2 separate regions of the Homo sapiens genome follow, and region 1 is linked to region 2. The links come from fine-mapping of genetic effects on gene expression. A gene starts in region 2. The other region holds a variant in brackets. All regions are shown on one strand. Distances are from middle to middle.

Region 1 (5,245 bases), 34 kb before region 2:
TTTTGGACATGATGGAATTTGGGGATGTGGTCTATTTGTTAGATGCAGTTTCTAGGAAGAGATTACCCAAAGAACTGAAGAACAATGACAAACTTATGTGTATGTGAGGGCAAGATAAAGAGTAGAGAGATGGTATAGTTGGGTATGGAGAGAATGCTGTAACTGAACTGCTCCCTTCAAGATGTCAGGTAAGATTGGAGAGAAAATGCAGGATAGCATTTGTCACAGGTAGTTGGAATGTGGAGGGAAGACTGGAAGGATGAGAAGGACTGAGGTGGACCTGTGGGCTGTGTTAGCCGGTGAAAGTTGGAGGGAAAGGGAAATGGGAGGCAGTAGAGCATGGAGTTACATATGCAGGCACTGGAGTCAGGCTGTTGGAGTTCAAAGGCTAGCTCTTCTGTGGATTTGTTATGTGACTTTACACGCTCTCTCTTGCCTCAAGTTCCTCTTCTGCAAAATGAGGTTAATAATAATACCTGCATAAACACATGCACAGCACACAGAACAGAAGCTGGAATGTGATAAGCACTTCATAAGCATTAATTCTTCTTACTGAAACTCACTAGGGTCACTTTGTGCATATTATCCTATTTAATCCTTAGTAACTGTATAGGTAGGTGTTATTATCTTCATTCTGCAAATGAGAAAACTGAAGTGCAAAGAAGTTTCATAATTTTCCTCAATCCACACAGCCACTATATGATGTGATAAAGCTTACCTAAGCTAGAGTCTTACCTGATCCATCTGGTGCCCGGGCTAGTGCACTTTCTCCTATAACACTCAGCCTAAGCTAGGTAGATATGGCAAGACCACTGGCTGAGGCAACTCAGATGTGATCAATAGGTAGTAGGGAACTGTGGCTGACTTGGGGGCAGGGGAAGCAGCATGCTGGAAAGATTCATCTGGTATGTTTATAGAAGAGAGCAGGCAGCAGGCATGGGGGGCTGATGATTCAGACCAGAAATGGCTGAGGAAATGGTGAGGTCTGGCAAATGTCAGAGGAGCTGTGATAGAAGAATGAGCAGAATTTATGACTGATGCAAATAAGGTAGATATGATGGTACGTGACAGAAACTGACTAAGAAGTCTGTATGCAGTGGGTGCAGCTTAGAGTTTCAACTTGAAAGTTTCAAACCTGGGACTCTAAGAAAATAGTCTGAATGGTAATGAGAAAGTTGTCACTTTAGTATCTGCTTCCCTTGAAGAAAAGCACCTTTAGAGGAACCAACTTGGAGAATAGTGTCGCATCAAAGTGGGACACTTCATTATTTTTAGTGGCAGCATGGTTCTGATGAGCACACCGTCGGTAACCTTTACTTCACTGTCAGTCCAGCTCTGTCAATCCTCCTTTATTAAGGAAGGAAGCTGATGGATCTTTCCTTTCTTTCTTTCTTTCTTTCTTCCCTGGAGTAGGATGTTTTCTGTACACAGTTAGCATGTGAACTTCTTTTTAAAAAGAAGTTTACATTTTACTCTAATTCTCATCCATAACGGAGTGTGGTGATTTGCATTTGGGCAGTTAGGAAAATCAGTTCTGTTGACTTCCTGTTTTCTATTTCTGGCCTCGAGCAGAACTTCCCATTTGAGTGGGACCAAGAAGAGCATACAAAGCTGAAATGTTCTCCAGAAGTTGATTTCCAATGGGGATAAAGTAAGTTAATGGTCTGAGGTGTTTGTCTCCCCTTGCCCCCGAAGCTTGCCCTTTAGTTGCTCTTGTTTTTAAACTACAGGGAATGAACTGAGGGAAGCATTTTTTTTTTTTTTTTCCTGCAGGTCAGAGTCCCAAAGCTTTAGTGCAGGGTTCCAAGGACTCAGGAGTTCAAAACATGCTGCTTAGGCTGAGCTCTTGGCCAGATTTGGAGATTCCAATGTCTTCTCCCTTTGACAGTTCCTAAGAATATTTTATTTGGATCCTTTTCTTTAGGTTTTTCTGTCTAAACATTTTATTTTACCTAGTGTGAAGGGGTGAGGGAGGGCAGATTGTTTCCTTTCTTCCTCCTCTCCCCTTCCCCCTCCCCTCTCCCTTATTCTCTGTTTATAATTTAAAAGGATGCTCACTTTCATTTTCTCATTTGCTTCCTTCACAGCACCCTGTGAAGCTGATATTGTTATCCCCCTTTGACAGAAGGGGAAACTGCAGTTTCAGTGAATTTCAGTGACTTAGTCAAGTCACTCAGTTAACAGTGCTGAGAGTGAAGCCCTAGTGTTCTGCCTTTAGATCTCTTTTTCCCAGTACCATACTGCTTTTCTGGTGGAGGTTGTAGTATATAGGATGATGTCAGAAAGGAGAGGCTGGGAAGCCTGAAACGATCACATCGACAATTGAATTGTCTGTTTTTTCTAATAAAATAGAAAATGTTAACTAAATATATTGCCATGCAATTCTTCAAG[C/T]ATATAGGACTTTGGGTCCTTTTTTGTGTCTCAGACTTTAAGATGATGTCTCCTGGGGAGTCATTTACTATATGCAAGGAGAATAGCTGAAAAGTCAGGGTAGGCCAGCAGTATTTCATGCTTTGTACTTGGGCAATATGGGTTTTTCTGTTGGAGGTTCAGCAGAGGATGGTAGCAAAGTGACATTTAATTCTCCTGCTTGCCAAATCTTGGTGAGGCCAAAGTGGGTGGGGGAATCGGTTGTGAGTAGGTGTTAATGACGAGTGTCTGGACCTTGACGTCTTCTCAGTCCTGGAGTAGGGAAAAAGGAACAGAATTAGTGCTGTTTAGAAGAAGCTGGTGATGGAGGTCTGCTTAGGAATGAGTGCAGATTAGGACAGGGGCAGTGAGGGAGGCCCACAGAGACTCTGGCTGCCTGTCTTTCCTGGCATGTCTGTGGAATGACCTTGCTCTGCCAGGACTCTGGGAGGAAGCCTTTGATTTTGGGGGAATCTTTAGGACTATGCACATAACCAGACTTTCCTGATGGGAATCTCCAAGGGGGCCTCCTGGGCCAGGGCCGTGGGCCAGCAGGTGTCTTCCTAACATGGTCTGTGAATAGTGCCCAACCTAGGCGGTGCCTTCTTTTCCTGAATCAAGCCCTTTCCTCCTCAGTGCCAAAGCAGAAGTGGCTGGGTGGGTGAAGATCTGAGTGCTGGCCCGGGGCCACAAGCCATGGGCCACTACCCATATTGCTGTGAGATCCTGACCTTTCTCTTTTCTGGACTCACAAGATAAAGAGAGTGAATGAGGAGGAAAATCAAATATTGTGGCAGGGAGGGGCTGACAAACACAGGCATGGCCAACAGAAGTCTCCCACCAAAGTGAGGAGCTGAGAGAAGGATTTGGGGAGGGAATGTCAGAAGTCTCACTCCCAGGCAAAGGATTCAACAAAGGAAAATCCGACTCTGGCTTGAATATGGTCCAGGTGTGGGGTTAGTAGTCCATGTTACTGTCTGACATGGGAGAGCATTCCACTGTGATGGAAATGGGGTGGGTTGGGGTACAGGAGGAACCATAGAGGTAGAAGAGAAAGGAGGTGAGAAGGAACATAGTCTGGCAGTTGACCAGAGTGTATCTGGCTGTATGGTGTAGTCCCCATAACAGGGCACCTATGTCTGTACATTGCACAAAAACAACCATCCAGTGTGTTCTTAAAAGTCCTGTGAAGGTACATTGTAATTTGAACTATATTTTGAAGATATCAGAGGATCCTATCATTTAGAAGAATCTCATGGGAATTACTTTTTAAAAAGAAAATAATCATTTTAGGGAATAGAAAGTCTCTCAACGATTGGTTTTGAATCTCTGGGTTTTAAATCCATTTACTCCAAGTAGGATTCAGTATTTCACTCTTTCACTGGCAGTGGATTGTTTTTTCTCCTACATATATGGCTTGAAAGCTCTTAACAAAGGATAGTAATTAATTATTTCCCAGCTATTTTTACCTTTGACGTATTAAAAGTTGGAGGAAACTATTTCATTTAACAGAATTTAAACAAAATGAAAAAGTTATTTTCCTTAAGGTATTCTGCTGTGCTTTTTCAAGGAAAAGCCTCCTCCAAAGGCACTTTTGGAGACAGTTACCAAAGGAAAATCCCACCCACCAACAGAGACACTCAGCCTCTAAGTTTGGCTTTTGGAAAATGAACACTATTCTTTTTTTTCCAAACAGGACGCTGTGAGATCAGTCATGTACACTATGAAAATAATTGGTGTGCATTAGTACACCTTGTGCCAGATTTCATGCTTGTTGAAAGGTGATTGGATTCAAACCAGCACATTTAAAGGTCAACTGGTTGTTCTTAAACTGTGCAGAATTTTAACTCTTTCATTATAATGGATTTTAACCAAATGGCCATTTTAGGAAGGAGAGAGACTGCATACTGTGTTTTAACTTTCTGACCTTTTTGTTCTTAAATTTTTTGTAAAGTTCTCAGGGATTTCCTATGGATGGAAAGGGTCTGAGAAATCAGTTCTCAGCTGGCATTTGGAAAAGGGTGGAAGTAGAAACTGAGTTCTTTTTAAACTGCTAAATTTAGGTCAGGGCTTTAATACGACTGTGCACATCACATAAGCAATGTCTAAATGTCAGGCTGAATGTTCTCTCTCTTTTAAATAAGTACTTCAAGTTCGTTAGTAATAGCTAGCCCTCTGTCTCTTTCTTGCTTCTCCTCTCACCTTTGAGCAACTTTTTAAGTTCCTTTAACAGCTCTGTGGAGAAACCACCATGTAATGATCAATATTTAACCCAGTTGGTTGACGTTAGCCCCGTTTCTGGAATGGGTATTTCACTGGGCTTTGGGGTTTTGATGACGTTTTCTCCCCAGTGACTGTGGATGCATGGATTAAATTTGTTGGTCTGCAAAATACCATCTGTCTACCAGCCATTTTGCTGTATTTCCCAAAATAAGGTAGGAGACTGATGTGTCTCAAATAAGCAGGGTGAAATTTAGTCATCTGATGATAGTTTCTTGGGTTGTGCATTAGTGTCCTGATGAGCCCCTAGCAACTTTCAACATTATGAAGACTAGTTTGGAAGCCTCAAAGGCAGTATCTTTCTTGAAGAAAAAAAAATAACACCAGGCATTTCCACAAATACCATACACAAGTGGTCAGGTAAAGGCTGTGGGAGTTCACGCATCTGTTTACCTTGAGTGTGTGTATGAACTCTTGTAGTTCTAACTAAAGGCAAATGGAAACTGTATAGAGTCCCATTTTGTCAAGCTGACAATTCAGTATCCTCTTCTTTCCTGGTTGCTTTATAGCCCACTCTTAGTTGTTCTCTTTCTATATTTCCTACAATTTTTAGCTG
Region 2 (5,245 bases):
GATGGTTGCTGGTGACGGTCTTGGACAGTAAGGGTTTTCTTCGGAGTTGTAGGAGGTGAAGTCTTCCTATGGGAAATTTCTGGACAAAAATACAAATGAAATGACTTGCAGGCCTCAGTTTAGAGTATTGTTGGCTTTGTCTGTCAACAAATGGAGATTTGAACATGGGAGTTCAAGGGGATTTTAATGAAATTTTATTAAGGAGATGAGAAGCAGGGAGTCTGTGTTGAAAATTCAATAAAGGGCTTGTTTTCCATCTCAGCCTGGATAATCTATGTTATCTCTGAGTAAAGGGGGTAACAATTCTAACAACCTGGCTTCCTTAGAAGTTTCCATTCTCATATAGTCACCGAAGGCAGCAGCACTGTCAAATAAACAAAGGTTTAATTAAATAAAAACTATTTAAACAGAGCAGAAATATTCTTCCCTGGCTAGTCACAGATTGGACAATTCAAAGAACAAACCCTGGGGGGAAATTGCCAATGGATTACTTTTTCTGTTTTCTGTCTATTGCAACGTTTTTCTTTCTGGTGTCAAATCTCAAGTTGAATTCAGTCAATTATCTACAGCCAAAAAAAGTGCATAAATGTCTCTTCTGTTACTGTTTATATGTCACCACTAAATAAAGCAAAATTTTCTTCTCAGCTTCTTGCCTTAGGATTTTATAAGTCCAACAAAACAAATAAAATATTATGTATATTCTATCGTCACTATGAAAGCATAAGGATTGATTTAGTTATGTACAAGTTTATTGCCAAAGTTTTTCTTCGTTGCTAATGTTACACTTGCTACAAAATGTATTAAAGAAACAGACAATTTGCTAAGGATTTGGAAGGATTTGTCATTGGGTTAAGTACATTAAGTATCTAAGGGGTGTGGTGTTCTGGTTATGTGTATGTCAGTTTCACATATTTTTTTGCTTTCTTATTTTAGTTGCCTCTATAATCATTTTGACTTTAAAATGTTTTCTGCAGATCCTTTAATAACTGCAAATGTAGAAGTATGGTGTAACAAGTAATTGGTATGACTAACACTAAAATGTAATGGGAAATAAGGATACTATTGTAAAGAAAACAAGAAAAACCTGGGGTAGGGGAGCAGTATTGATTCTCTCTTAGGATTCCTAAGATTCTCTGTCCCAACCCTTCTACCATGGAACATTCTTATGTGGTCTAAGTGTCAAAGACCAGAGGAACTGGGCAGTAACTTATCTTCTCAATTTTCTCTCTGAACATAGATATTTTCTTTAAGATACGAAAAACTTTTAATTGTGCTCCTGAAACCCATCCCTGTCCTGTCTCAGCCCCGTTGACTCTTCTTTCTGTGGGTGGGTGAAAAGCCTACCCATCTGCAAAGGTAGCTCTGAAACTGTTCTGGAAAATCCTGTATTTTCCTCCACAAATGATCGTTTTAGTTTCAAGTTTATTTCAGGTACATTAATTCTCCCCCTCCTCAGACTTCATAACAAATGATCCTGCACACGATTAGAATAGGAAAATGTAAAATAAAATCGAAGCATATCTAGTTGCCTCAGCGACTTTATGCTTATCACTTTCAGTCTGCATTATTCTACTAAAAATAAAAAGAAAGATGAAAATTACCTCAGGCGTTTGCTGCCGTGCCTGCCCTTTGGTTTCTGGGACGGCTCGGGTCCCGTAGCGCCGGCACAGCTGAGATTGCCAAGCCGGGAAGAGACCTTGCTCCAGGTGTAGCTGCGTTTTCCCCAGATCACCTGTCCTTTTCCCCTCCGACAAGGAAGCTGTGATTTTTCTCTGGCCTTTAGAGGCAAAGTGATTCCAGATAAGTAGATTAATGTGTAGAATATCTCATCTGTGTTGTTCCAGTGCAGCCCTTTCAGCTTTCCAGAGCCAGTTAGACTTGTTATGAGGAGCTAAGTGATTGGCTGGCTCTGGAGCTCAGTTTCATAGATTATAGCCCAGCGTACGAGAAGCACGAGTCCTATAGTTGGCGTACCCTGAGGCCTGCCAGTTCCTGCCTTAATGCATATGTAGTCGTAATTGAGTTCTGACACGGCCTTGGATGTTTCTGTCCTAAATAGCTGACATTGCATCTTCAAGACTGTGTGAGTAATCCTGATATTTTTTTTTTAAGCTCAGTAAATTAATTACATGCCCTGGGAGGGAGTGATTGTAAGTAGAAAATACTGAACTAGCAGATGATTCGTTTTTAAGGTGCTATACTATGTGTATCAAGTTCAAGACGATGAATCTTAAAGCTTCTAAGAACTGGCAGGGTTATTCCAGCTTTGTGCCATGAATCACAGTCAAGCTGCATTTTGAAGGAGGCTGTTTGATGCATTTGCTAGCTCTGTTTGTTTTATGGGGTCAGTAAAGTGGCAGAGGTCCAACAGGAGCAGGTTAAAGCAGGATGCTGGGATCAAAGCTTAGAGAGCACTTGAGTCAGGCAAGTTTTAAGTTTTCCCACCCCCAAGCATCTCAGTCCAAAACTGAGAGCAAGCAGCAAATATTATAATAAATGCTTTGGGGACAGGGGTACACAGCAGATAGGGCACAGTAACAGGAGAAATGTAAAATGATGGCAGCAATACTTTTGTTCACTGTAATCTGCAGCCAATTGAAGACATACACTATGAATAACTAAAACATTTTTATATGAACAAAAATGCTCTTCAGTGGTTCTGTTTATGTGGTAGAGGGCTGAATGAAAAACCATGCGCTTGTTGTAAAAAAGCCTTATAAAAAGTACATTAAACACATACAGACACAACCATAACAGAAGAAAGTATGTGGATTGGAATTTGTGATTGGAGCAGATCAAATTAAGCCAGGGAAGCCGTTATTAGGTTTGTATGATTGCTGGGGGGTAACTTCTGTTGCTGACAAGGTTTAGGATAAAGCTGGAGCAGATTGAAGTGGAAAACCAGAAAACATCAGCATTTCATTACCTTCTATAGCATACACTGCAGGGTAGAATTAATACTGAGTATAGACTGGTAAATGTGAGCAGTTTACTGTTTGCTTTTAAATCATTATTGATTTCCCCTAGCCTATCATAAAAAATAATAGGGCTTTTGCCTATGAAATTAGTGCTTAGAAATATTTTTCTTCCTCCCAAATAATTTTTATACTTTTTCTCAATACAGCACAAAGGTAGGTCATTAAAAATAAAGGGGTTCCTTTTCAAGTTGCTTTTTGTCTAATTTTTCCTCTTTAGACCTGTAGATACAAATGTATGTATTTGTGCTATGTATAACTCTCAAGCATAAATCATTTGAACAGTATTTAAAATCACAGGCTCCTGTGGCAAATATAAACTTTTAATAGCTATAGTTGGCAATTACTTGCCAATTCCTATAAAAATAACATTAGTGGCTTATTTTTGATTGCACCTAAACAACTGGCATGATTTAGCCAGTAGGAGAGAAATATTAGTTGTGTTTTGCATAATTTTGTGTTTAGATCACACTGGAAATACAAAGTTTTGTTGTTAAAAATATTTTTGCTTTCTGAAATATTATCCCCTTTCAGATCACACCAATGAATGAAGTTTGTAGAAAGAAAGAAAAGTAGCCAACGTAGACTCCTTTTCTGTATCAATCAAATATATGCAAAATACATAGATTTTTAAAAATGTAATTTTAATACATTCCTTTAGAAACACATTTACTTCATGAAGAAACAGTATAATGAGTTCATTTATTGACCCAGAATAGTGAGTTGATTTATTGAGTTTCTGTAGCCATAGACACGAATAGTAATGGTTGGCTCATTCTTAGCTATACATTCCTAACTGACTGTATTAGTGGGAGAAAGGAGTGCATCTATAAAATAAATATAATCCCATCCCTCAAGGTGGTCTGGAGCCCATCTAAGAGTAAGAAGTAGTAGAGTTGAAGCTGCTTTATCTGAATCAGCTCCTGACTTCAACTCAGCTCCTCTTTTTCCTTAGGTCCATGTGGCCCACTTGGTGTAGTATTCACATCTCCTTCCACCTTTTTATGCCTTCATTGTTTACATTACCTTGCTTGGGCTCTTATTGAGATGAATCACATAAAAATGCTTAATTATCAAACATTAATCAGCTGCCTATATAATTCAGAGGATGTTTAAAACCAAGGCTCAAGGAAATTCTGGTGGGTGTATACTAGGAGTATTTACGTCTTGCATCGGTACTTTCCTCTGGGACTTCCATCACTTCAGTTCTTCCTGAGATGCCAGAGTCATATCTCTTACTTGTGAAAGAACAGAGCTTTAAGAAATGGAGTCTAGAGGTGCCAGGTGCCCAGTGGACAGTGGGCTGGGGGCAAGGCATGGTGGGGAAAGCAAAAAAAATCTCCCAAACAGCAATAGTTGATCTTTCTTCTATCCACTCCTCTCAATTTTCTAAAACCATTTTTGTCTAACTGTGGAAGTTCTTTTGCAGATAAGGTTCTGTAAAACTATGCATATCTGCCATAGACAGATGGATTTGACGAAAGATGTATCCAAAAAGGAATGTATCACATCATGAACTTGCTAAGTGTTCATGAATACACACTGGCATTTGGAGACTATTAACACTACCTACTGAAGCAAAGACATAAATCCAAATTGAAGAAAATATAATTTTTTGATTGAATTACATTTTCCAGTGGGTTTTTTTTTTTTTGGTGAATTTTGTTTTTGGAAAAATTTGCTCTTCCCTCCAACGTTTTTCCTGTGTTATATATAGGACTGATTTGATTTCTTCAGCTTGCCCAAGAATTTAATAATTCTTACTTTGTGTTTTCAAAAGAGTTGCTGTCTACCTTGAGCATGTTTTTAAAAAAGCAGAACAAAACGAATGAAACAAATGTCCCTCTTCCCACAGAAAAAGCACACCACCAAGGAGTTAAATGCCCTACATTTCTTTAAGTCCCTCCTTTTGTGGAGCTAGACACTGGTAGAAGAGGAGCTTTCATTTAATTTCAAGACAATCAGTGATTCCAACTTAACTATAACTGTGTTCCTCTAATATCTGATTTCAAGAAGCAGAACATTTTGGTGAATTAATCTTAGAGTCAACGGGACCACGCTCAGGCCATGAAACGTTTTCTAAGCCTCAGTCTCTATGTCTTTAAAATGAAAATAATGATATATGTTCTGGTATTTTACTAGATTGGTGAATATCCACATCACAATGAGAAAGTGCTTGTCAAAAGAACATTGTAATGTGTAATTTGTAATGTGCTGTACATGTACACTATTATTATGACTGTAGCTCATCACGCTAGGGTTAGGACTCT

Which allele goes with the higher level. Positions count from the first base shown, and alleles are read on the strand shown. Sizes are in standard deviations (SD) of each study's normalised expression.
For the expression in prefrontal cortex of the gene that starts at base 2,312 in region 2, allele C in region 1 goes with a lower level than allele T (moderate effect, 0.72 SD a copy in GTEx).

What was found. PIP is the estimated chance that this variant, and not a neighbour inherited with it, causes the effect. A credible set is the group of variants that fine-mapping cannot tell apart.
Region 1: its variant is the best candidate, but not a certain one, in a credible set for the expression of PART1 in prefrontal cortex (GTEx, PIP 0.82).

What each region holds. Positions count from the first base shown.
Region 1 is chr5:60,518,457-60,523,701 of GRCh38, reverse strand. All of the region lies in intron 1 of PART1 (prostate androgen-regulated transcript 1), which reads right to left. It also overlaps a transcript of PDE4D not described here. Among named protein-coding and RNA genes, the nearest start is that of PART1, 33 kb to the right of the region's middle. RefSeq lists enhancers at 801-1,060, 1,211-1,280. The variant C/T (reference allele first, on the strand shown) is at 2,392.
Region 2 is chr5:60,484,780-60,490,024 of GRCh38, reverse strand. It overlaps PART1 (prostate androgen-regulated transcript 1), which reads right to left and starts at 2,312. Exons shown (of 4, transcript NR_024617.1): 1 at 1,602-2,312. It also overlaps a transcript of PDE4D not described here.